Linked DNA regions of Homo sapiens. The protein of the gene in region 2 purifies or fractionates together with the protein of the main gene of each other region. This does not show direct contact. Each region holds a gene or a part of one and is shown on either strand. Other genes may lie near its edges.

The links.
Region 1: the proteins of ACTR3B (region 2) and ARPC3 purify together in Homo sapiens (affinity purification with mass spectrometry; 8 studies listed by BioGRID and IntAct, with this or other methods). This does not show direct contact.
Region 3: the proteins of ACTR3B (region 2) and RBL1 purify together in Homo sapiens (co-immunoprecipitation; one large-scale study listed by IntAct). This does not show direct contact.
Region 4: the proteins of ACTR3B (region 2) and SBNO1 purify together in Homo sapiens (affinity purification with mass spectrometry; one large-scale study listed by BioGRID and IntAct). This does not show direct contact.
Region 5: the proteins of ACTR3B (region 2) and ME2 fractionate together in Homo sapiens (co-fractionation; one large-scale study listed by BioGRID). This does not show direct contact.
Region 6: the proteins of ACTR3B (region 2) and CCT2 purify together in Homo sapiens (affinity purification with mass spectrometry; 2 studies listed by BioGRID and IntAct, with this or other methods). This does not show direct contact.
Region 7: the proteins of ACTR3B (region 2) and ARPC5 purify together in Homo sapiens (affinity purification with mass spectrometry; 6 studies listed by BioGRID and IntAct, with this or other methods). This does not show direct contact.

Annotation. Positions count from the first base shown.
Region 1 is NC_000012.12:110,443,838-110,447,337, reverse strand, and holds part of ARPC3 (actin-related protein 2/3 complex subunit 3), read left to right. Parts: intron 1-1,786; coding exon 1,787-1,886; intron 1,887-3,500. UniProt on the Homo sapiens protein: Component of the Arp2/3 complex, a multiprotein complex that mediates actin polymerization upon stimulation by nucleation-promoting factor (NPF).
Region 2 is NC_000007.14:152,766,252-152,769,751, forward strand, and holds part of ACTR3B (actin-related protein 3B), read left to right. Parts: intron 1-3,500. UniProt on the Homo sapiens protein: Plays a role in the organization of the actin cytoskeleton.
Region 3 is NC_000020.11:37,033,498-37,036,997, reverse strand, and holds part of RBL1 (retinoblastoma-like protein 1), read left to right. Parts: intron 1-1,489; coding exon 1,490-1,756; intron 1,757-3,500. UniProt on the Homo sapiens protein: Key regulator of entry into cell division. Directly involved in heterochromatin formation by maintaining overall chromatin structure and, in particular, that of constitutive heterochromatin by stabilizing histone methylation.
Region 4 is NC_000012.12:123,288,609-123,291,847, reverse strand, and holds the end of SBNO1 (protein strawberry notch homolog 1), read left to right. Parts: 3' UTR 1-2,739; downstream 2,740-3,239. UniProt on the Homo sapiens protein: Plays a crucial role in the regulation of neural stem cells (NSCs) proliferation. Enhances the phosphorylation of GSK3B through the PI3K-Akt signaling pathway, thereby upregulating the Wnt/beta-catenin signaling pathway and promoting the proliferation of NSCs.
Region 5 is NC_000018.10:50,927,618-50,931,117, forward strand, and holds part of ME2 (NAD-dependent malic enzyme, mitochondrial isoform 1 precursor), read left to right. Parts: intron 1-3,500.
Region 6 is NC_000012.12:69,588,459-69,591,958, reverse strand, and holds part of CCT2 (T-complex protein 1 subunit beta), read right to left. Parts: intron 2,475-3,500; coding exon 2,272-2,474; intron 1-2,271. UniProt on the Homo sapiens protein: Component of the chaperonin-containing T-complex (TRiC), a molecular chaperone complex that assists the folding of actin, tubulin and other proteins upon ATP hydrolysis.
Region 7 is NC_000001.11:183,625,784-183,629,283, forward strand, and holds part of ARPC5 (actin-related protein 2/3 complex subunit 5), read right to left. Parts: intron 1,812-3,500; coding exon 1,749-1,811; 3' UTR 1-1,748. UniProt on the Homo sapiens protein: Component of the Arp2/3 complex, a multiprotein complex that mediates actin polymerization upon stimulation by nucleation-promoting factor (NPF).

The DNA.
Region 1 (3,500 bases), on a different chromosome or scaffold from region 2:
ATAAAAAGCCAGACATCTTGTAAAAAGCAGAACTAAGAATCAGCATACAAAATGCTCTCATAAATGTGATTTTTTTTATCCCTTCCTTTAACACACACCTACCCACTGAAGGGAATATATATCTTCTCATTTTACAAATTTGGAAACAAGCTAAGAGAAGAAGAATGATGTCTTGGTCAAAAGCATAACGCCATGAAGTGGCAGAGCTGAAAAGATAGTGCTTGGGTCTTGGTTTAGCTGGGGGCTGGGTACCCTGATTTATATGATGTTTGTCTTTCTGTAGTGGAAATACTTTGGCCAGATACCAATGTGATGTCACCGAACATAGAATTGGAAGAGATGCACAGCAGCACCCCATTATTTAGTATTTCGTAATAATAACCTTAAGAACATAGACAATAGTAAAATGTAATTTTTAAAAATTAGGTTATTGCCGGGTGCAGTGGCTCACGCCTGTAATCCCAGCACTTTGGGAGGCCGGGGCGGGTGGATCATGGGGTCAGGAGTTCGAGACCAGCCTGACCAACATGGTGAAACCCTGTCTCTACTAAAAATACAAAAATTAGCTGGGCGTGGTGGCACGCACCTGTAATCCCAGCTACTTGGGAGGCTGGGGCAGGAGAATCGCTTGAACCCAGGAGGCGGAGGTTGCAGTGAGCAGAGATCGCGCCACCGCACTCCATCCTGGGCGACAGGGCAAGACTCCGTCTCAAAAAAAAAAAAAAATTAGGAAGTAGGCCAAGTGCAGTGCAGTGGCTCACATCTGTAATCCCAGCACTTTGGGAGGGCAAGGCGGGCAGATCACCTGAGGTCGGGAGTTCGAGACCAGCCTGGCGAAAATGGAGAAACATCGTCTCTACCAAAAATACAAAATTAGCTGGGCGTGGTGGCTTATCCCTATAATCCCAGCTACTCAGGAGGCTGAGGCAGGAGAATCACTTGAACCCGGGAGGCGGAGGTTGCAGTGGGCCAAGGTCATGTCATTGCACTCCAGCCTGGGCAACAAGAGCCAAACTCTGTCTCAAAAAAAAAAAAAAAAATTAGGAAGTAGCCAGGTGTGGTGGCTCACACCTGTAGTCCCAGCCCTTTGGGAGGCTGAGGCAGGAGGAACACTTGAGCTTAGGAGTTTGAGATCATCTTAGGCAACATGGTGAGACTCCTTCTCAAAAAAAAAAAAAGAAGTGATGAATACTTAAGCATCATTGTTTTTAACATTATTTACTTTTTTTTTTTTTTTGAGACAGTCTTGCTCTGTTGCCCAGGCTGGAGTGCAGTGGCACGATCTCGGCTCACTGCAGCCTTCGCCTCCTGGGTTCAAGTGATTCTCCAGCTTAGCCTCCCACATGGCTGGGACTACAGGCGCACGCCGCCACGCCTGGCTAATTTTTTATATTTTAGTAGAGATGGGGTTTCACTGTGTTGCCCAGGCTGGTTGCAAACTCCTGAGCTCAGGCAATCTGCCTGCCTCAGCCTCCCAAAGTGCTGGGATTACAGGCATGAGCCACCACGTCCAGCCAACATCATTTACTTAATTGTAAGTTTATATAATTTGATTTTTGAGAAGAGCTGTGTTTAACAACCAGCTTGAAAAATGCCTCAAAATTTAACAATTGGTTTTCTTGAGCCAGAAAGAACCAGCCCTCGCACCTCAATGCTGCTATCCCTTCTCCCTCCCCTAATTAATCTTGGGTGGTTTACTCTTTTTTTCCTTTAAGGGAAGGTTGTTTGCCACAGTGACATTTGCTCTTTTTCTGCTTCTGTGTTCTTCCTGGGCTTGCCATTACAGGCTTACCACTCTTCTCTCATGGATCCTGATACCAAACTCATCGGAAACATGGCACTGTTGCCTATCAGAAGTCAATTCAAAGGACCTGCCCCCAGAGAGAGTAAGTCTAAACCCATTATTTTCAAATTTTGGTACGAAATGCCTAACAATCTTCTGAAATGATCAAATCAGAAAAATTCTTAGCTCAGTCTTCTCTCTCAAATTGCCCTTGTACTTTGCTTGGTAGATACTGTGGTCTAGACCTTTCAAGATAGTGGTTATATGTTGCATTTAATAGGAAATTGTATTATTTCTTCTGACTTCTCCAGGAAACTCTTTTGAGAAAATGGAGGAAATGTGCTTAATTCTGGACACTGTTTATCAGTTCTTTCAAACAAATCTAATGCTGTTACGTCTAGAATGCCACATGCCCATCCTTTCTGTCATCAACCTGGAAAAGAACAACAACAAATATTTTAACCTCTTCCTCGTCTAAATCTACTTCCTTTATTCATTCTTCAAGATCTTCATTTTTAGCAATACCTCAATCTTAAATCTGAAGTGTACTATGTAACATTACTTACGTCTATTCCCGCTTTTCTGAATTTTATTTCAGAAAGCCGCAATATTTTTCAGACACTGTCTGAGACTCTTCTGATGCTTTCTGAGATGTTCTCCCAACAGTATAATTTGTATTATGTTAGACATGGTTTCCCTGTACCCTGCAAGGGTCTGAACTGAATTCCATTCATGGTTTCCAAGACCATTATTATAATTACCAATTTGGTACTTATCCAGTCCCCATTTCTCTGCCAGACTGTTTGACTTGACCTTTTTTAAACTTAATTTTGTTTTCAACACCATTTGAAAGCTCAGTAAACTTAATGCATATGGTGAGTCACCACAGTCTCTACTTGATTCTGAGGAAAAGGAACAAGGAAGAAGACAGCCTGGGAAAGAAGAAAAATAACATAAAAGAAAATCACAAGGCTGGGTGCGGTGGCTCACACTTGTAATCCCAGCACTTTGGAAGGCCAAGGCAAGTGGATCACTTAAGGTCAGGAGTTCGAGACCAGCCTGGCAAACATGGCGAAACCCCAACTCTACTAAAAATACAAAAATTAGCTAGGCATGGTGGTGGGCACCTGTGATCCCAGCTACTCAGGAGGCTGAGACAGGAGAATCGCTTGAACACAGAGGGTGGAGGTTGCAGTGAGCCAAGATTGCACCACTGCACTCCAGCCTGGGTGACAGAGTGAGACTTCATCTCAAAAAAAAAAAAAAATTTTTTTTCACTGCAAAGGCCAGGCGTGATGGCTCACACCTATAATCCCAGCACTTTGAGAGGTCGAGGTGGGTGGATCACCTGAGTTCAGGAGTTCAAGACCAGCGTAACCAACATGGAGAAACCCCATCTCAACTAAAAATACAAACAATCAGCCGGGCATGGTGGCGCATGCCTGTAATCCCAACTACTTGGGAGACTGAGGCAGGAGAATTGCTTGAACCTGGGAGGTGGAGGTTGCAGTGTGCCGAGATCATGTCATTGCACTCCAGCCTAGGCAACGAGCAAAACTCTGTTTCAAAAGAAAAAAAAAAAAAACCTGAATTGGAATGGAGGCCTGTGCTGTGAGCTAAATAACAGCATTAATCACACTAATTCATTTATATTCAACAAATATCTGTAGAATGCCTTTTATGTGCCAAGTATTCTTCTAATTTCAGAATCCTTTGG
Region 2 (3,500 bases):
GCAGTTAATTCCTCCAGCATCAGGCTGTGACAACACGTGTGCAATGCTCCGTACCAGGGAAGCTCCTCAGAGACACAGGGCCCAAGGTTTTCACTGGGGACTTGTCATGCAGGCACCCTGTGCATAGCACGTGCCGGAATTCCAGAGTCCCAGAAGGAAAGCAAGGCATTGGCATAAACCACGTTGTTTGCCACTCTAGGAGCAGTGAACTACTTTTAGCATTTAGGGAATGGTGGGAACGCCTGAACTCCAAGATCCTAGATACCAATTAAAGGCCATTCCTCCAAGCAGGACTTTCTAAGAGACAGCAGTCTCAGGCCCATTAACTTTCTTCTGCACATAGAGAATATTAACCCTTAATGATATACGTTGCAAATATATTTCCCCTATTTATCATTTGTCTTTTACCATGCAAAGTTTGTTTTCTTTAGGCAATCGGATTTATTCATCTTTTCTTTATTGTTTCTAGATTTTGAGTCATAGTTAAGAAAGGTTTTTTTCATTCCCAGATTACATGGTGGTTTCTTTTCTTCTTTTTCTTTTCTGTTTTTTTGAGACAGAGTCTCACTCTGTTGCCCATGCTAGAGTGCGGCGGCACAGTCTCCACTCAGTGCAACCTCCACCTCCTGGGTTCAAGCGATTCTCCTGCTGCAGCCTCCCGAGTAGCTGGGACTACAGGTGCATGCCACCACATCGGGCTAATTTTTGTATTTTTAGTAGAGAAGGGGGTTTTACCATATTGGTCAGGCTGATCTCAAACTCCTGACCTCAGGTGATCCACCTGCCTCGGCCTCCCAAAGTGCTGGGATTATAGATGTGAGCCACTGTGCCCAGCTGGTAGGTTTTTTTTTTTTTTTTAATGGTTTCATTTTTTTCATTTAAATCTCTAATTCATTTGGAATTTATCCTGAGATAAGGTATGAAGAATGGACCCAGTTGGATCCACTTTTGTGTGTGTGTGGCTATGGCTGTCCTGTTTATCTCAACATAATTTATGGAAAAAACCCAATGACTGGAGATGCTGCCTTTATCATATGCTGCATTTGTCTATGCAATTGTGTTTCTTTCTGGATTTTGTATTGTGTTGAGTTAGTCTATTGGTCTGTTCATAATAGCAGCACCACACAGTTTTAATTAGGCTCTTTAGAATGATTTCATTTCTAATGGTGCCGGCTTCCCCTGCCCATCTAATTCCTTTTTAGGGCTTTCCCATGTATTTTCGATTGTTGTTCCTCCAAGTGATCTTTGTAATCAGTTTCTCTAGTTCTGGGAGAGAAAGCCTGATGGCATTTTTATTGGGATTTTATTAAACTTAAAAATTAATTTAATGAGCATCATTATCTGTATAATACTGAGTCTTCCCATCAAAGAACATGGTTTATCTCTCCATTAGTTCAAGTCTATTTTGTGTCTTTTAGGAATATTGTGGTGTTTCTGCAGGTAGATTTCTTGTTAACTTTATGTATTTGATTTTTTTTTGCTATCATAAATGGTGCCTTCTCTTCCATTTTATCTTGTTTTTCTTGAATATATGAAGATTGTTAGTTTTTTCATTCCTAGATTACATGGTGGTTTTTCATGGTAGTTACTCATTTTATAACGTGCTGCTTTACAGAATGCTCATATTATTTGTATAAATTTTTCCCTTGATCCCTAGGGATTTTCAGATATAAAAACTTGTCATTGGGCCTGGCGCAGTGGCTCACACCTGTAATTGCAAGCACTTTGCGAGGCCGAAGCAGGCAGATCACTTGAGGCCAGGAATTTGAGACCAGCTTGGCCAACATGGCAAAACCCTGTCTCTTCTAAAAATACAAAAAAATTAGCTGGGCGTGGTGGCACACGCCTGTAATCCCAGCTACATGGGAGGTTGAGGCAGGAGACTCGTTTGAACCTGGGAGGCGGAGGTTGCAGTGAGCTGAGATTGAGCCACTGTACTCCAGCCTGGGCAACAGAGCCAGACGCTGTCTCAAAAATAAAAACCAAAACCTGTTATTGGCAAAAGAGATTGTTTTACCTCTTCCTTTCCATTTTTAGGGACTCTTAACTGCTTTTTTATTGACACAGTGCAGAGGCCATTACCTCCAAAGCAATGTTAATTTAAATCAGAGTGGAGTTAGTGGGCATTATTATTTTATTCCTGATTTTAGTGGGATAGTTCTGGTGTTTGTTTGTTTGTTTGTTTGTTTTCACTTATTGTGGCCTAAGAGGGTTTGCGAATGTTCTTTGTATTCATTTTTTTGAGTCAGAGTTTCACTCTTGTTGCCCAGGCTGGAGTGCAATGGAGCGATCTCGGCTCACTGCAACCTCCACCTCCTGGATTCAAGCAATTCTCCTGCCTCAGCCTCTCAAGTAGCTGCAATTACAGGCGCCCGCCATCACGCCCAGCTAATTTTTTATATTTAGTAGAGACGGGGTTCCACCATGTTGGCCAGGCTGGTCTCGAACCCCTGACCTCAGGTGAGCCACCCACCTTGGCCCCTCAAAGTGCTGGGATTACAGGCATGAGCCACCGCGCCTGGCTAGGAGATACAATCTTTATAAGTTCTGAGTTTAATGTGTCTATATGAACTACCTTATTAATTATGTTATTTAGGGCTTCCAATTTTTTTTTTTAATTGAGACCGAGTCTCCTTCTGTCGTACAGGCTGGAGTGCAGTGGCGTGATGTCGGCTCACTGCAACCTCCACCTCCTGGGTTCAGGCAGTTCTTTGCCTCAGCCTCCCGAGGAGCTGGGATTATAGGCACCCGCCACCATGCCTGGCTAATTTTTGTGTTTTTAGTAGAGACGGGGTTTCTCCATGTTGGCTAGGCTGGTCTCGAACTCCTGACCTCAGGTGATCCACCCGCCTCTGCCTCCTAAAGTGCTGGGATTACAGGGGTGAGCCACCATGTCTGGGCTCACATTTTTGTGTGTGTGTGTACCTAGTCTGTCATGGACTGAGAATGGCATACTAAGGCCTCCTATTGTTAGTAACCTATTAAGGTCTCCTCGCATTTTCTGTGGGTTCTGCTTTATGAAAGTTGTTGCTGCCATATTGGTTATCTAGATAGAAATAACTTGTCTCTTCACTAGAGTTGTTGATTTAGCATATCAAGTAGCCTTCTAATTGTTTTCTCAGCCGAGTTGTACTTTGTCAGATATCAAGATGTGTGATCCCTGCTTGCTTCTCCTTGTGTTTGTCTGATATAGATATATATATATTTCTCCATCCTTTTATTATTCTTTCTGAATTGTCTGTACCCAAAATATTGTTTTGCTTTTTAGTCAATATGAAAATGTTGCCTTTTGTTGGATGACTTAAGCTCATTTATACTCATAGATAGGTGATTTAAGCATATTTATATGTATTGATATGATTGATATATTTGGCCTCAGTTTTGCAATATTTACATATATATGTATTTAAACATCTTTTGCCATGTAGTCCATTTTATTTTATTAATATCTTTTTTGGTGCACTTTAGGGCAGACTGTATTTTTGTCTAATTGTTATCAT
Region 3 (3,500 bases), on a different chromosome or scaffold from region 2:
TACAGAGAGCTTCTAAATCATTGCCAGGGGTCATTTTCATACCTTTTGAACATGTTTTGAAAATAGATTACAGGGCCAGGCGCAGTGGCTCACGCCTGTAATCCCAGCACTTTGGGAGGCCGAGGCGGGCAGATCACGAGGTCAGGAGATCGAGACCATCCTGGCTAACACGGTGAAACCCCATCTCTACTAAAAATACAAAAAATTAGCCGGGCATGGTGGCGGTTGCCTGTAGTTCCAGCTACTCAGGAGGCTGAGGCAGGAGAATGGCGTGAACCTGGGAGGCGGAGCTTGCAGTGAGCTGAGATCATACCACTGCACTCCAGCCTGGGCAACAGAGCGAGACTCCATCTCAAAAAAAAAAAAAAAAAGAAAAGAAAATAGATTACATGACTATCTAATTATCTAGTGAATGTAAAAATAAATAATGAAGGCCGGGCACGGTGGCTGAAGCTTGTAATCCCAAATGAGGCAGGTGGATCACCTGAGGTCAGGAGTTCAAGACCAGCCTGGCCAACATGGCAAAACCCTGTCTCTACTAAAAATAGAAAAATTAGCCAGGCATGGTGGCACATGCCTGTAGTCCCAGCTACTTGGGAGGCTGAGGCAGGAGAATCGCTTGAACCCAAGAGGCAGAGGTCACAGTAGGCCAAAATCGTGCCACTGCACTCCAGCCTGGGTGACAGAGCAAGACTCCATCTCATAAATAAATAAATACTTTTGTTTTAAAAGCATATTATTGACCTACCTGTAAGGAATAATTGGTTGAGGGAAGAATTGTGAAAAAAGATGTAGAAAAGATGTAGGGTTGTAAGGGGCTAGAAAAACCCGTGCAGCTGGTAGAGAGGGAATGGAAAGCAGATCCTGTGAAAGGATAGCACAGGAAGAGAGGCAAAATCCATAATCCTTACTTTATTTTTGATCAACACAGTACTGCCAACCCTCAGATTAAGGCAAGGTAAGCAGATTTATATCATCTTTACTCATATCTTCTGATAGATTTACTAAAGATGATTCCATATCTACTAAATTAGAAAGCCAGAGCTACCGCCTTAAACTGCTTGGAGTGCAAATATTCACAAAGAGGCAAAACTGTGACCCAAATTCCTGATTTTTGCTTTTGCTTCCCTTCTTCTCAGGTGCTCTCTACTAGGTAAGATTGGGAGATATTGGACTACTACTAAAATTTAGTGCTCACTTCATTCTACCTCTCAACCTCTACTTTGTCCTTAATGTTTTGCTCCTTTAATGTAGGCAGAGGTTCAAGAAACCAGGAAGATGAGTGATCATAATTTTCACGTTTTATCGTAGTGACTTATTTCATGCCTCTTTCTCCCAGTAGACTACATATTCCATGAGGGCAAAGGCCATGTTATTCATATCTAGCTAGTGCCCAGCATAAGTAACTCACTATCTGTTGAGTGAATGAGTAAACCTAATTTATTATTTTGGAATACATTTCTGTTTTAAATTTATTATTTTTTTTTAGATATGCAACCATTGTCTCCAATTTCTGTCCATGAACGCTACAGTTCTCCTACCGCAGGGAGTGCTAAGAGAAGACTCTTTGGAGAGGACCCCCCAAAGGAAATGCTTATGGACAAGATCATAACAGAAGGAACAAAATTGAAAATCGCTCCTTCTTCAAGCATTACTGCTGAAAATGTATCAATTTTACCTGGTCAAACTCTTCTAACAATGGCCACAGCCCCAGTAACAGGAACAACAGGACATAAAGTTACAATTCCATTACATGGTAACGTTATAGTGCATTTGTTTTGTACTTTTTCTGAGATAAAAATTTAAGAAATGTCTTAGTGGATTAGATCACATGGTTTTTCTAACTCATTATTTTTTCTTGAACCTATACTTTTTTTTTTTAAATAGATTTGAATTTTTTAGAGCAGTTGTAGATTCACAGCAAAATTCAGAGGAAGGTACAGACATTTCTCATAGTCCCCCTTCCCCAACCAGAGGCATATAAAGCCTCCCTCATTATCAGTATTCCACACCAGAATGCTACATTTGTTACAGTTGATGAACCTACATTACTGACACATTACCCAATGCCCATAGTTTACATTAGGGTTCACTCTTGGTGAATAGTTTATTGATTTTGAGAACGTATAATGACATGTATCTGTCACTATAGCTCCATACAGAGTAGTTTCACTGCCCTATAAATCCTCTGTGCCCCACCTTTTTGTTTTGAACCTATAGTGGTTTTTTTTTTATTTTTAAATTTTATAAATTTACTACCCTCTCTGTTTGTTTAGACTTATTTTACTTTTTCTTTTCTTCTTTTTTTATTTTTTGAGACAGGATCTCACTCTGTCACCCACATTGGAGTACAGCAGCATGATCTCATCTCACTGCAACCTCTGCTCCCAGGCTCAAGTGATCGTCCCACCTCAGCCTCCTGAGTAGCTGGGACCACAGGCAAGTGCCACCACTCCCAGCTAATTTTTTCTATTTGTGGTACAGATGAGGTTTTACCATGTTGCCCAGGTCTCAAACTACTTTTAAAATGTTCTTATCTGAGCTTTCCAATATGTATGTATTGAGCAAAAATTCTGTTTTTTGACTAACAGCTCAAGTGCTCAAAATGTTAAAAAAAAAAATGCTTTTTTTTCCAATAAATTTAAACTATAAATGTATCCCAGGCAAATACAAAATAGAGAACAAAATTTGCTTTTTTTTCCATAAATTTAAAGTATAAAAACAAAACCGAATATTCTTGTTTCTAGAAAATAAGGATTTATGCGGGGCATGGTAGCTTTCACCTGTAATCCCAGCACTTTGGGAGACCAAGGCAAGAGGATCACTTTAGCCCAGGAGTTTGAGACCCAGACTGGGCAACATAGCAATATCCTATCTCTACAAAAAATTAAATTAGCTGGGCATGGTGATGTATGCCTATGGTCCCAGCTACTTAGGAGGCTGAGGCAGGAGAATCACTTGAGCCCAGGAATTTGAGGCTACAGTGAGCCATGATCACGCTACTGTACTCCAGCCAGGACAACAGAGCAAGACATTGTCAAAAAAAAAAAGAAAAAGAAAAAAAAAAGGGGGCCCGGGGGGCGCCAGGCACAGTGGCTCACACCTATAATCCCAGCACTTTGGGAGGCTGAGGCAGGTGGATCACTTGAGGTCAGGAGTTTGAGACCAGCCTGGCCAACGTGGTGAAACCCCGTCTCTACTAAAAATAGAGAAAAAACATTAGCCGGGTGTGGTGGCGCATGCCTGTAGTCCCAACTATTCAGGAGGCTGAGGCAGGAGAATTGCTTGAACCTGGGAGGCAGAGGTCTCAGTGAGCCAAGATGAGGCCACTGCACTCCCACCTGGGTGACAGAGTGAGACTGTCTCAAAAAAAAAAAAAAAAAGTCCAGCTGCAGTGGCTCATGCCTGTAATCCTAGCATTTTGGGAGGCCAAGGCAGGCAGATGGCTTGAGCTGACGAGTTCGAGACTAACCTGGGCAACATGGCAAAACTCCCATCTC
Region 4 (3,239 bases), on a different chromosome or scaffold from region 2:
TATATAGAGAAATGTTGAGTTCTTCTGGATTCTGAATGTAAATAATTCTTGTAAATTGGGACTCTGCCCACCTGTTTCTCCCTTTTCCCTCTTCCCTTCAGCTCTATTTATTCTTTTCTTGACTTTCCCATATGGGGCATCTTATGACTTTTTTTTTTTTTTTTTTTTAAGAAAAGTATGGAAAACTTTTCATTTAGAAAAGTATTTGTTCCTGTATTTTAGAATTCAGTTTTGCATCTTTGCTGTAGAATTCCTGTTTTGTGTTAATGTTTTTTACTATGTCTTATTGTGTTGTGTGCAATGCATTGTACTGGGGGGATGCACTTGAGTGCCATTTCTGATACTGTCATTGTATGACTGCTGATGCTCGTTTATGTTGTTCTTTGGAAGCTATAGTGAGCCTGATGTTTTCACATTTTAAAAAATGCTTCCTGAGACTTCTTTAAGCTCCTCTAACTTCTTCAGTGCATTTGGGATCAAACTTAGCTCTTAGATCAGCAAACCTGACTTGCTTCTACTTTTGCAATTTTTCAGGCCTTACCATATTTCTTATCTCTGTCTTCCCACCTGATAGGAAAATCTTGCAGATTTGAAACAGTGGTTTCTGGCCTGCTGCTGCAGCAAATTCCCTATGTTTATTTAAGAAGTCGGGCCTATGCTTTTAACCTACAAATGATGAGTAATTTACTTGCAATGAACACAGGTAGCCTGCTGCTGTTTATAACCTGTTGAGGATATTTATAGCAGGCAGGAGGCAGGCCTAGTGTGTTATTGACAGGTGACTTTAGAGAATGTACATTGGCCGGGTGCGGTGGCTCACGCCTGTAATCCCAGCACTTTGGGAGGCCGAGGCGGGCGGATCATGAGGTCAGGAGATTGAGACCATCTCCTGGCTAACACGGTGAAACCCCGTCTCTACTAAAAATACAAAAAAAAAAAAAACTTAGCCAGGCGTGGTGGCGGGTGCCTGTAGTCCCAGCTACTCAGGAGGCTGAGGCAGGAGAATGGCATGAACCTGGGAGGCAGAGCTTGCAGTGAGCCCAGATCGCGCCACTGCACTCCAGCCTGGGCAACAGACCGAGACTCCGTCTCGAAAAAAAAAAAAGAGAGAGAATGTACATTAAGGAACAATTGTCCTCCAAAAGAGAGCCAAGCAACTGCTCTGGAGCCTCCTAGGCTGACTCTGCTGGAGGGTGAGACAAGCAGATTCCCATTGCAGCACTGGTCCCTGGGGTACCCTGAACGGCTGTGCTCTCCACCCTTGTATCGGTGAGTGGATCTTGTCTACATCAGCCGTAAGCCTAGAAGCAGAGCGGGATCGAGGCGTTTTTAATAATTCGAGTTGGGAAGACCCGGATGGTTCATCAAAATGATGGTGTTGAGCACCCGGGAGGCAGACATTGGGTATTTGTTCACAATTTTGCACCTGTAAGAAAATGTTCCTTTATAACTTTCAAGGATTGCCGTGAGCGTCTTTGGGGCCTTTTCATTCATGTACAAGTTTCATTCATTACTATTCAACTTGGTAGACTTGGTGAAAAATGTAAAAGCATTCTGTATTTGGATCAGTCTTGGGAACTAAATTTGTCGTGAATTGGGGCCTGTCACAGATTGCCTCCAGTGTGCATCCTCCACGCAGACCCTCCTTGCTCAGTCTCCCTCTGGCGCCCATGGGGAAGCCGTGCTGTGGTTGGCAGTGCGGCCATCTGGGCTGCCGCAACGTGGCAGGGCACCGTCCAGCAAGACTGCCCCTTAGTGCAGGGCTAAGCAAGGAAAAGAAGAAGCCCAAAAAGGCGGGTTCTTTTTGATACTTGTAATTCAGGCGTCCTCCAGAGTGAAGGCCACTCTGCAGGCCCCTGGTGAGAACCTGTCTGGCTTTTCCACTGCGGGCCCCTAACCAGTACCCTGCCCTTGTGGCCCATTTGTGCCTGGGCAGATGTTTCTGGCCAGCAGACACTGAAGGCCTTTTTGCTGTGACAGTATTTATGGCACTGAAGAGGATAAAGAAGCTTGAGCCCTCTTTCTGACTCCCACTTTATGGGGCAGAGAGAGCTTTTTTTCTACATAGCACATTGCAGTCTCACCGCTATCAGAAAAATATCCTGTTCATGGTTTATACTGAATTTGCAAACTACTGATATGATTTTTCAATAACCACTTGTATCTTCCATCATCCATGAGAGGTGGGAAGAGGTACACTGTATCTCTGCAATAAAACTTTGGCCAGGTTCTACCTCCTCTGAGCAAAGGATACTTTTCTATGTAGGTGTAGATGGTTCTCCTTTACTAATCTGACATGGTGCATCTGGAGACAACATCTGATGGGATCCAAAGACAACTTGAAACAAAGGTGGATGTCAGCTCTTGGTGTGTTTTCATTTGGTTCTCTTTTTTAAATCTCCCTTTTGTTATCGCTCCTGTTGTAGCGTGTCCATCAGTGTGTGAAGGGTGCGCCCTGTTCCAATGATACTGCATTGCTGCATCCAGCCTTTCGTGGGAGCACGGTACCAAGCGTCCGGAATTGATTATCCCAATCATTTTTGATATGTAACTGAAAAATTTGGTCTCATGCAATAAAAATGTACTGGCTGCATTTTAGCAAGGTTTATTTACTCTTGCAAGTAAAAACGATCAACCGTGAAGCGTAACAAATTCTGTATTTAGTTTTTTTTTCTGTTGTGGTGGTTTTTGTTTTGTTTTTTGTTTTTGTAAGATTCTAAATAAATTAAATACGAGTCACGGGTTGTGCTTTCTTTGCGCGCTGTCTTCGCAGATCTCATGAACATCTTCATAGTGTCTTTATAAAATGTAAGTGCTGTCACCGTGCCTTTGCAGATGGCACAGGCACTGAGTCAGGGAGCCAGCCAGGGTGGGGCGGTGCCCAGCCCAGGTGCAGTGTGTGGGCCCGGAGTGGGCTGCTGTCTTGGACTGCTGCGGAAGGCGGTGGGAGGGAGAAAGGGCTGGGATGCGAGTGGGAATCTGAGCAGCGTTTAGTGCATGGCTTGTCTGGGAGTTTCTCTGTGATTATTTCAAATACTTGGGAGAAGGATGTTCAAATTTTAGCTTGAAATGCGTAAGGGTATTCGATCAAATTTGTAAATAGCATTAATGTTTAGGGGGGATTTAACCTCCTGAATATATGAGATAATTGAGCATTAATTGAGGAACAAGTCAAAAGGAAGTGTTTTAACTAAAATTTGATTCAGTATTTTTGAGTTTGAAAATTGAAAGAAACAGGT
Region 5 (3,500 bases), on a different chromosome or scaffold from region 2:
TGTGAACCCACGAGGCGGAGCTTGCATTGAGCCGAGATCGCACCACTGCACTCCAGCCTGGGTGACAGAGCAAGACTCCATCTCAAAAAAAACCCCAAAAAACCATATATATATATATATATATATATATATATACACACCACAGTACTGTTATACCTCATAATTTGAACAATAATTATATCTTGTCATTTAATTTTTTTTTTTTTTTTTTTTTTGAGACAGGGTCTCTCTTGGTTGCCCAGGCTGGAGTGTAGTGGCACAGTCATAGCTCACTGCAGACTCCAATTCCTGGCTCAAGTAATCCTCTTGCCTCAGCTTCCTCAGTAGCTGGGACTACAGGCAAATACCACCACACCCAGCTAATTTTTTAATTTTTATTTTTGTAGAGACAAGGTCTTGCTTTGTTGGCCAGGCTGGTCTCAAATTGCTGACCTCAAGTGATCCCCTGCCTCAGCCTCCCAAAGTGCTGGGATTACAGACATGAGCCACTGTGCCCCACCTAATTTCTTGAATATGTGAATTGCAATTAAAATTTTCTGATGGTAACAAATATCTCACTCATTTTTATTATCTATCTTTTGTTCTGTCTTGGTTATCAGGTTTGTTTGTAAGGCTAATTTGTCCTTTTTTTTTTCTTTTTTTTTTTGAGATGAAGCGTCACTGTGTTGCCCAGGCTAGAGTGCAGTGGCGTCATCTCACCTCACTGCAAACTCTGCCTCCCAGGTTCACATCATTCTCCTGCCTCAGCCTCCCGAGTAGCTGGGTGCCCGCCACCATGCCCGGCTAATTTTTTTGTATTTTTAGTAGATATGGGGTTTTACCATGTTAGCCAGGATGGTCTCGATTTCCTGACCTTGTGATCCGCCCGCCTCGGCCTCCCAAAGTGCTGGGATTACAGGCATGAGCCACTGCGCCCGGACTGTTTTTGTTTTTCTTAATTGAGTGATGGATAGTGTAGAAAAAGAACTATAGCAATAATTTAAGGCTGTGGATAAAGTTATTTTTGGAGAAAGGGACTTTACTTTTTCAAGTAGATCGCCATAATCCAGTCAGGATGTGGTCCACATGAGGCCTGGGGTATTTCCAGTTTGCCCTTTCTCCTGATATCCACCCCTTTGGGTATGAATCATCAAAAGTCCTGAGGTATTTATCAGCACCTCTCATCCTTAACGGTCCCTGAACATCCATTTTCCTCTCTGTCATCATGAGACTTTGGGTGGCTTTGCTGTTCAGGGTCTCAGTCACAGCTTTTGATTTGGAAATCAGCAGTCATCTTGAGGGGAAGAGCTTCAAATGCTAGGCTCATATATCTTGCTTCCCTCTTCTTTTGAATCTTGGAAACCTCTCTTCCCCAACACCAAACTCTCACTATCTTGTTAGGTCTCTGCTTGCTTACAAAAATTTTTAAAAATGTATTTTATCTGGTTTTTTAAATTGTAACCAGAGGAAAATTTGGTATGAAACAACCCAGAAAATCATTGCCAAAGCAGAACTCTCAGAACTTCCTGAACTTAATATTCATACTTTTGATATATTTGGCATTCTTTTTTTTTTTTTTCCCATTGTTAAACACTGTGTAGGCCAGGCACAGTGGTTCATGCCTGTAATCCCAGCACTTTGGAATGCCAAGGTGGGCAGACCACTTGAGGCCAGGAGTTCAAGATCTGCCTGGCCAACTAAAAATACAGGTGAAACCCTGTCTCTACTAAAAATACAAAAAAATTAGCCAGGTGTGGTGGCTCACACCTGTAGTCCCAGCTACTCAGGAGGCTGAGGCTGGAGAATAGTCTGAACCCAGGAGGCAGAGGCTGTGTGAGCCAAGATCGTGCCACTGCACTCCAGCCTGGGCAACAGAGCAAGACTGTCTCAAAAAAAAAAAAAAAACCAACAAAAAAACAACCTTTATGTTGACACATGTATTCTCTCAAAATTCCTTTTTGACCTTTTTGACCACTCCATTAGTCAAAATAAATTCTCATGACTGTTAGTTTCCAATTGATATAATAATTATTGAAATCTCTTCTTCTAAATCAATCACAAAATCACCATACAGATATTTAAAAATTAGTCTCTTTAGTATACTGTCTTATCTTTTTATTACTTTTAGCTTGATTGCCTGTCCTCTTCACCAGGTTTTACTACTTAAAACTAATGGTTATTGTTCCCCAAATTAAATCTTAGTCTTCTACAATGACTCTTGGGTAAATATATTAAATGCATCATGGATCGTTGACATTTCCAAAATATAAAAAATTTAAGTGTTTCGAGTAGTAGTGGTATATCACCAGAAGACTGCTCATTTAAGAATTTTGTTTTTTGTATAAATATTATTGTAATAAATGTACTTTATTGGAATAAATAAAAATTCCCCAAGGAGACTAGTTTGATATACTATATTTCATCAGTTTTAAGATCAAGGATTGCTTGAGCCCATGAGTTTGAGACCAGCCTAGGCAACGTAGCGAAACCCTGTCTGTATAAAAAATTTAAAAATTAGCCAAGCATGGTGGCGCACACCTGTGGTCTTAGCTACTTGGGAGGCTGAGGTGGGAGGATTGCTTGAGCCCAGGAGGTTGAGGCTGCAGTGAGCTGTGATCGTGCCACTGAACTCCAGCCTGGGCAACAGAATGAGACCCCGTCTCAAAAATAAATAAATAAAAAGAGCATGGTGTCATAGTTTACTTTTACATAAATTCTTTCTTAGTGTTACATGAAATAATGGCATAGAATTTTGACTAGTCGTCACCTGTTAAATTTTTAGTCCCATTTTGTTTTCACCAGGGAGGTGTTACTCCAACACCGTTTGCTGCTCAGCGAGAAAAATACTCTAAAAAAAAATCTTCATAGTTGAATTGCCAGCTGCTTACATAGACCAAGTTGGACTTCAGAATAAGAATATACTATTATCATTAAAATCTGGCCACGTTTAAGCCATGGATTAATTATTGAGTTAAATGGGCAGGGAGGCAGGGATGGTGACCTGGAGAACGTGAACTGCTATAGAATCTTGTCATTATTGAAGAGATTCCCAAGATCTTTCTAAATTTCCAAACTTACTGATACCATGAGAACATTTTTTCCATGATGTGCTATATTGTATAATCTACCTTATAAGACTATTAAAATTAATGGTGCCAGAAAAATAATTATGTACTTATTGTGATAACATGTATGACATTAACCATGAACTAACCTTAATCATCAAAGAAACAAAATTTTTAGTCACAAGTAATGTTTAGAACAGATAGATAATTGTAATAGCTATCCATAGAATAGGTAGAAAATGATATAACAATATAGAGTTGCAAGTCTAAGATAGTCAGCTCTGCCCTACTAGCATAGTTAGCTTGCTTCTACTCTTAAACCTTGTATCATTTTGAAATGGAAAGTATGTCTTGTAAAAGTAGTGGTTACTCTGCATTATTGACCTTCAGATTACCTGGAGTCAAATTCTTGAATGTTAAATCCACTAAAGCCAAGGGTCTACAATGCTATAAAGA
Region 6 (3,500 bases), on a different chromosome or scaffold from region 2:
AGCTATTTAAGTCCAATTTACCAAGCTCTTAGAAGGCATAAAAGCAAGCTTGTCCAACCTGCCTTATTCTGTTGTTGTTTTGCTTTTAGGCTTTTAGCGCCTGAAAGCCATGGATTTTAGTTTCTGTCTCTAGTGATAAGCAGAAAAGAGGGAGGAGGAAGGGGCTTTACCGACCCAACCAGAAACAGAAACTAGGAACCCATGACTGTATTCTCTTCCTTGGACACTTCTGGTATAAAGCATCCCACTAGAAGAGTTATTACAAAATCAATTTAATGGGTTACTTAAAAAATATGAAACAGAAAATATAAGAGCACAGTACAGACAATAAAATTAAACAGTATTTTGAAACTTTTGTTTCAGATATACGCTACACCCACATCTGTATGGGTTGCAATATAAAGACAATAGGTTAAGTCCTATATTTTTATTAGCTTAAAATCACCACCACAAGAGAAAAATTGAAGATTCAGGTATTGAGGCTGGTGGTAAAAATGGAAAAACCATGGACACCGTGGAGTCAGATAAATCTGACCCTGATCATGCCCCTGCTGCTGGCTATATAACCTTCGACAAATTATCCAACCAGAAATGCTAATTTGTAAAACAGGAATGTAACCAGTAGCAGAGGTGCTAGTTACCAGCCTAGTCCTGCTGCTTTGGAACCATCATACAAACCCAGTACCACCTACCTTTCTAGGCCTTTTTTTGGTTACATTAGAAACTTTTCCATTATGAAGCCACCATTATCTTGGGTTTTCTACTCTATTCAAGTGAACCTAATCCTCACTCACCAGGTCATGATGACTAAATGACTAAAGTTCCTATTACAATTCCTAGTACAGAGCAGACATTCAAGAATGGTGCTGCTTGTGCTACTAATATTCTTGTTTTAATGCTCCTTCCCTACCACCAGCCCCTATCAGAAATGCTACGCAGCGGCCAGGCATGGTGGCTCACGCCTGTAATCCCAGTACTTTGGGAGGCTGAGGCAGGTGGATCCCCTTAGGTCAGGAGTTCGAGACCAGCCTGGTCAACATGGCGATACCCCGTCTCTACTAAAAATACAAAAAAGTTAGCCAGGCATGGTGGCACACGCCTGTAATCCCACCTACTCAGGAGGCTGAGGCAGGAGAATCGCCTTAACTCAGGAGGCAGTGGTTGCAGTGAGGCGAGATCATACTGCTGCACTCCAGCCTGGGTGACACAGCCAGACTCCGTCTCAAAAAAAAAAAAAAAGAAATGCTACACAGCTCTTGTATATAAACTTAATCAAGAGTATTTTCAGAATTATGACTCTCTCTTAAAATAAATCAAGACCTATGACACAGAACAAAACCAGGACTCCAAACCACTGGTAAAAACAGAAGTTGTAAAGCACCATCTAATTCTTTTTTTTTCCTTCTCTATATAAGAATGCCTATACTTTTTGACAGGCCATTTTGTGAAGTAAATATAATGTGAAGATGATCTGGAAAACTTCACTCTAAACAAAAATGTACTACTAAGAAAGCAGTACTTATTATGTCTCATTTATCACTCTTTAAGAACTAGATCCTCTTGCCCTATAAACATACATAATTATTTGTTAAAGAAATTTTTTTTAATTCTTTTCTAAAAAAAACTAGTCATCCCCCAGTATACGAAGGGGACTGGTTCCAAGACGCCCACATACACCAAAATCCCCACATACTTAAGTTCCAGGCTGACTGGAACCAGCAGATTTGAAAAGCTGGCCCACTATATACATGGGTTTCAAATCCTGCAAATACTGCATTTTCCATCCACGTTCGGTTGCACATGTGCAAACCACGGACACAAAGGGCTGACTATATTTATTGAAAAAACCTGCATTGTGAACCTACATAATTCAAACCCATGTTGTTCAATGGTCAACTGTACATCCTCAACAACCAGCTAACACAATGATTTGACTGACCCAGACCCTTCCTGGAGAATACATATAATCCTGGTAAAAGTACCATTTGAGAATAGATGATTTCTAGTAAAAGAAAACATTTCCTCTTTATCAGAGACTGCAAATAACTTCATGGTAGTTAAGTAAACTCTAGAGATCATCAACAATGCTGGAATAGCGCGGGAAGAGGAGTACACTGTCAATAAAATGACAAAAATGGTTGCACATATGATATGTCCTTAAATTCAAGTTCACTGGCTTTGTAAAGGGTCACTGGTCTCAAAACAGAATTCACTCAGTATTCAGCCCTCAGCATCTAATCAAAGCTTCTTGTATCTGACATTCATACATACCTTCATCTAAATAGGAATCTGCCAAACTTCCTCCTAGCTTCTTGATAATATGAATTGCCTCCAGGTTGCCAGAGCCTTTCAGTCTGAGAACTGCTTCTACAGCTAACTTTGTAAAGTGGTCTTTGTGATGAGTAAGAAGTTTTGAGGATAATGTTGTGCCCGCAATATTCATTAAATCTTGACGGAATTTAACTTCATCGGAACTAAATAAAACCAACCAAATATACATATTAACCCTACTTTACTTTTCAAAATTTATCTAGATATTCATGTCAATAGATAATTTTACCCTAACTGATCAAGTCTGTAAGCTATATGAAAAGAATTAAACCTCAGCAGTAATCAAGAAACACAAATTAAAGATGTTATTTTCCCCACCAAACTGGCAAAATGCCAAAAAAAAAAGAGGGGTGGGGGCCACACAAGCATGCAAAAGTCTAATGTTGGCAAGAATGTGAGAAATGGCCGGGCACAGTGGCTCACGCCTGTAATCCTAGCACTTTGGGAGACTGAGGAGGATGGATCACTTGAGGTCAGTTCAAGACCAGCCTGAGCAACATGGTGAAACCCCATCTACACTAAAAATACAAAATTAGCTGGCTATGATGGCACATGCCTGTAGTCCCTGCTACTTGGGAGGCTGAGGCAAGAGAATCGCTTGAACCCGGGAGGCAGAGGTTGCAGTCAGCCGAAGTCGTGCCACTGCACTCCATTCTGGGCAACTCTAAGAGCGAGACTCCGTCTCAAAATAAATAAATAAATAAAAGGACGTGAAAAACAAGTATTATTATACAGTTGTGAATGGGCAAATAAATAGAAGTGCCTTAAAACAGTGGTCCCGGACCTTTTTGGCACCAGGGACTGGTTTCATGGGAAGACAATTTTTCCACCTGCTGCTCACCTGCTGTGCAGCCCAGGTTTGGGGGTGCCTTAAAACACACACACTTACCTTTGGACCCAACAATTACACTTCTAGAAACCTTTGGGCTATGTCGCAACGTCACAAAGTTATTTTATAATGCTAAAAATCATCAAATACACAAATCTCCCCCTACAGATAGGTTAATACAGTCATTCTAGCCAAATATTCAAATGTGTAACTCTATTAAAATACTGCACAGAAAATTGACATCCAAAAATGTGCTTAATATTTAACTAGGTTAAAAAGAGGCTAACAAATTCTCTATACAGTATTATACTATTTGCTTTATTTGTATATTTTGATGATA
Region 7 (3,500 bases), on a different chromosome or scaffold from region 2:
AGTGTTTTAAAGTGGGAATCTAGTCAGGTGAAGATCGAAAGCAAACAGAAGTCGCTGTGAGTAGGTAAGTACAAGAAATAGATTTGAGGTGAAAGAAAGAGAATTTTGGAGGCTGGGAGTGAATGACTGCAGCTGCTAAGCTACTTTGCACTTTCTAGTCTAGGTCTTTGGGCAGTGATACTACATATAGGTATTCAGCTGCCATCCAGAAGGCTATGGAATCACTCCAAAGGCTTCAGTAGTGCTCTGACATCATTCATGACTCTCTTCTCTATCATCTTATATCTATATAGTCTTATAAAAACCCTACCAAACTGTTCTTGTTAAGAGTACAGTACTTGGTGGTAGAAGCAGAAAACCTTTCCTCTTAATTAACCATACATTCATAATTGTTAAAGTCAGAGAAAAATAAATTATTCAACACTGACATTTTATTTTCTGAAGTTTTATCATTTTTACAAAACAAAACAAAATGAAACAAAAAGCAGGTATCAAAAACAGCAAAGAGTTTATAGAATTTCTGCACCAGTTTGCACATAAGTCAGTGATTACAAAACTGGCATCCAATGTAAATACTAAGCACAAGCTCACTTCCCTCTTGGTCAGGTGGTTTGTTTTAGAGCTACTCGATATTTATAACTTTTTATAAGCACCGGTCATTTTTTGAGAACTGATTTGGTTTGTCCAACAAAGTAAACAATTTTTTGCTGTGTGGCAGTTTCTTTTTTTAGAAAACACTGAGCTAAAACACAGAATGTGTATTTGTTTGGATCTGAACCAAATCTTTTGAGATCCCAACTACCCTGAAGAACACTGAAGACATTTACGGGGCATATTAAATGGTATCTTAAATACTAGTTGTATACCTCATAATGTCTAAGGCAGCTATTATATTTCTAAAGAAAGTAGCATTTCATTCAGAGGCTGCCCAGAGTTTAAATTACACCATAGTTTTTCTTTCTTTCTGCAAATCATTCTTTCTGATTTGCAGTTTTTTCCAAACAGAGCCATATTAGTGGAACAAAAGTTTGATGTTCATGCCCAACAAGCTCTGATATTTTATGGATACATTTGTATAAAGCAAGACTTCTTGCTCTGAACCCTGGGTGACCACAAATAAATTGAGGGGCCATGATTATTGGATGCTGAGAGAAAGTAGCATACTTAAACCCACAGTACAGATAATCAGGAGGCAAGCAAAAACAAAGCTATAACTTAGCAGTGGTATTCACCCACCACTTATTCCAAAAACATATTTTGCTTATTAAATAAGGGAAATATGGTCCAGTTTTGCAATGTTAATAGCTGCCAGTCTCTCATATTTTTTATAAATATCATTTCCTGACTAGCAATGAGCTAGGAAACTGGCCTCAAATTCTGACCAAATCTCTCAGTATTAGTTAAAAATAATACAAAACAAAACAGAACAAAAAACCAGCCAACAGGGGTTAAAAGTTGCACAATTAAACTTGAATGTAAATTATACTATATACAGATTGGTATAAACATCACTGAAATGGTTTTGAAAGGATGAAACACTTCTATTTTAACACAATTTCTTCTATATTATCCCAATTTTCATTAAAGGACAACTGATATGTAATTTTTTTCTTTACAGATATGAAAAAGCAAGAAGGCAAAGCTGAGAGAAACAGATGCTACCCACAGGGCAGCGGTGGCATTTGGTTGTTTTGGTCTTTGTACCAGCAATTCCCACTCCCGAGGCAGATAATCCACTTCCTGCCAGACTACACAGTTTTTCTTGCAGTCAAGACACGAACAATGGACCCTACTCCTCCAGCAGCAAGTGCCTAAAAACAAACCAAGATGTAAATGTTGACAGAATAATAAAAGGTCAATTCTCATATTTGGTAAAACATTTTTCTTAAAGAAGGAATGGGCACTGCTATAGACCCTGAATTTATTAGTTAACAAATAATAAATTCTTGAGCACCAATTATGCACCAGGTACTGTTCTTGGCACTGAGGTTACAGTAATAAACAAAACCTTGAAAGTCCCTGCCCTCATGAAGTTACATTCTAGTGAGATACTAGTTTACATTTTAGTACATTAATTCTAAATAATGTTTTAAAAAATCTGCAGCATAGGCCGGGCGCGGTGGCTCACGCCTGTAATCCCAGCACTTTGGGAGGCCGAGGCCGGCGGATCACGAGGTCAGGAGATCAAGACCATCCTGGCTAACATGGTGAAACCCCGTCTCTACTAAAAATACAAAAAATTAGCCGGGCGTGGTGGCGGGTGCCTGTAGTCCCAGCTACTCGGGAGGCTGAGGCAGGACAATGGTGTGAACCCAGGAGGCGGAGCTTGCAGTGAGCCGAGATTGCGCCACTGCACTCCAGCCTGGGCGACAGAGCAAGACTCCGTCTCAAAAAAAAAAAAAAAAAAAAAAAAAAAAAATCTGCAGCATAGTGTTCCTGCTCAAAACAGGTGGACATTCTGCATTTCTCATTCTCACCACATAGTCAGAAGAAAATTCAAACTGGGATCAACCATCCCAACTTCCACTTCGATTAGTCAGCCTTTGTCAGATTTTTTTTCTCCCAAAGAAAGAAGGTATTGTTTAATAGCTAAGAACTTAGAAACTTTAACTCTGACTCTAATTTGAAAAATAGAGAGTAATGATCAAGTATTAGGAATCTGAGCTCTGGTTTCTTTCTGTTCAAAAAATATTTATGGAATACCTTTGTATACTGAGTACTGTGCTAGATGCTGGGGATACAAAAGTGAACAAATACAGCATTTTCTGGTCTAGCATGAGGAGACAGACATATAAACAGGTAATTTTAATCTAATGTATGAAATGAGAGTTGTGCTGCAGGTGCTATTAAAGCACCAGGGAGAGGCTTATACCCAGATTAACAGTATAGAGGAATGTTTCAGCTAAGGCTTCATGGAGGAAATGACACATTAAAAGAATGAGTAGGTGACAGGCTAACACCAGAAAATCATGAGCAAATGTATGGAGGTGTGAAACAATATGGTGCATTCAGGAAAAAGGCTGGCATTGCTATAGCCTGAGGGGAAGAATGACATGGAAGATGAAGCTAGACTTGGGAACTTTGACTTTATCCTGCAGGTGACTGACAAGGGCAATTTTGATTTTAAAGATATCATTTTGATGGCTGGGTGGAGAACAGATTTGAAGGAGGCAAAACTGTTAACTGGGAAACCAGTCAGGAAGCTATGGCAACAGACTGGGAGAGATGCTGTGAACAGCTGCATTAGATACGCTTGAACAGATAGATTTCAGAAATACTTCGAAGATTGGTAAAAACTGGTGACTGACATTTGGAAGAAATGAAGACTTCACACATGCCTCAGTTTCCTCAGTGACAAAAGAGGAATAATAGCAAGCATTTCCCTCCATTTTTATGAGGATTAAATGAGTTAATATTTATAAAGTCCTTTGAAGAATATGTGGAATATAATAAGTAATCAATGTTCACTGCAATCTTGAGGCTATGCTAGAACTACGCTG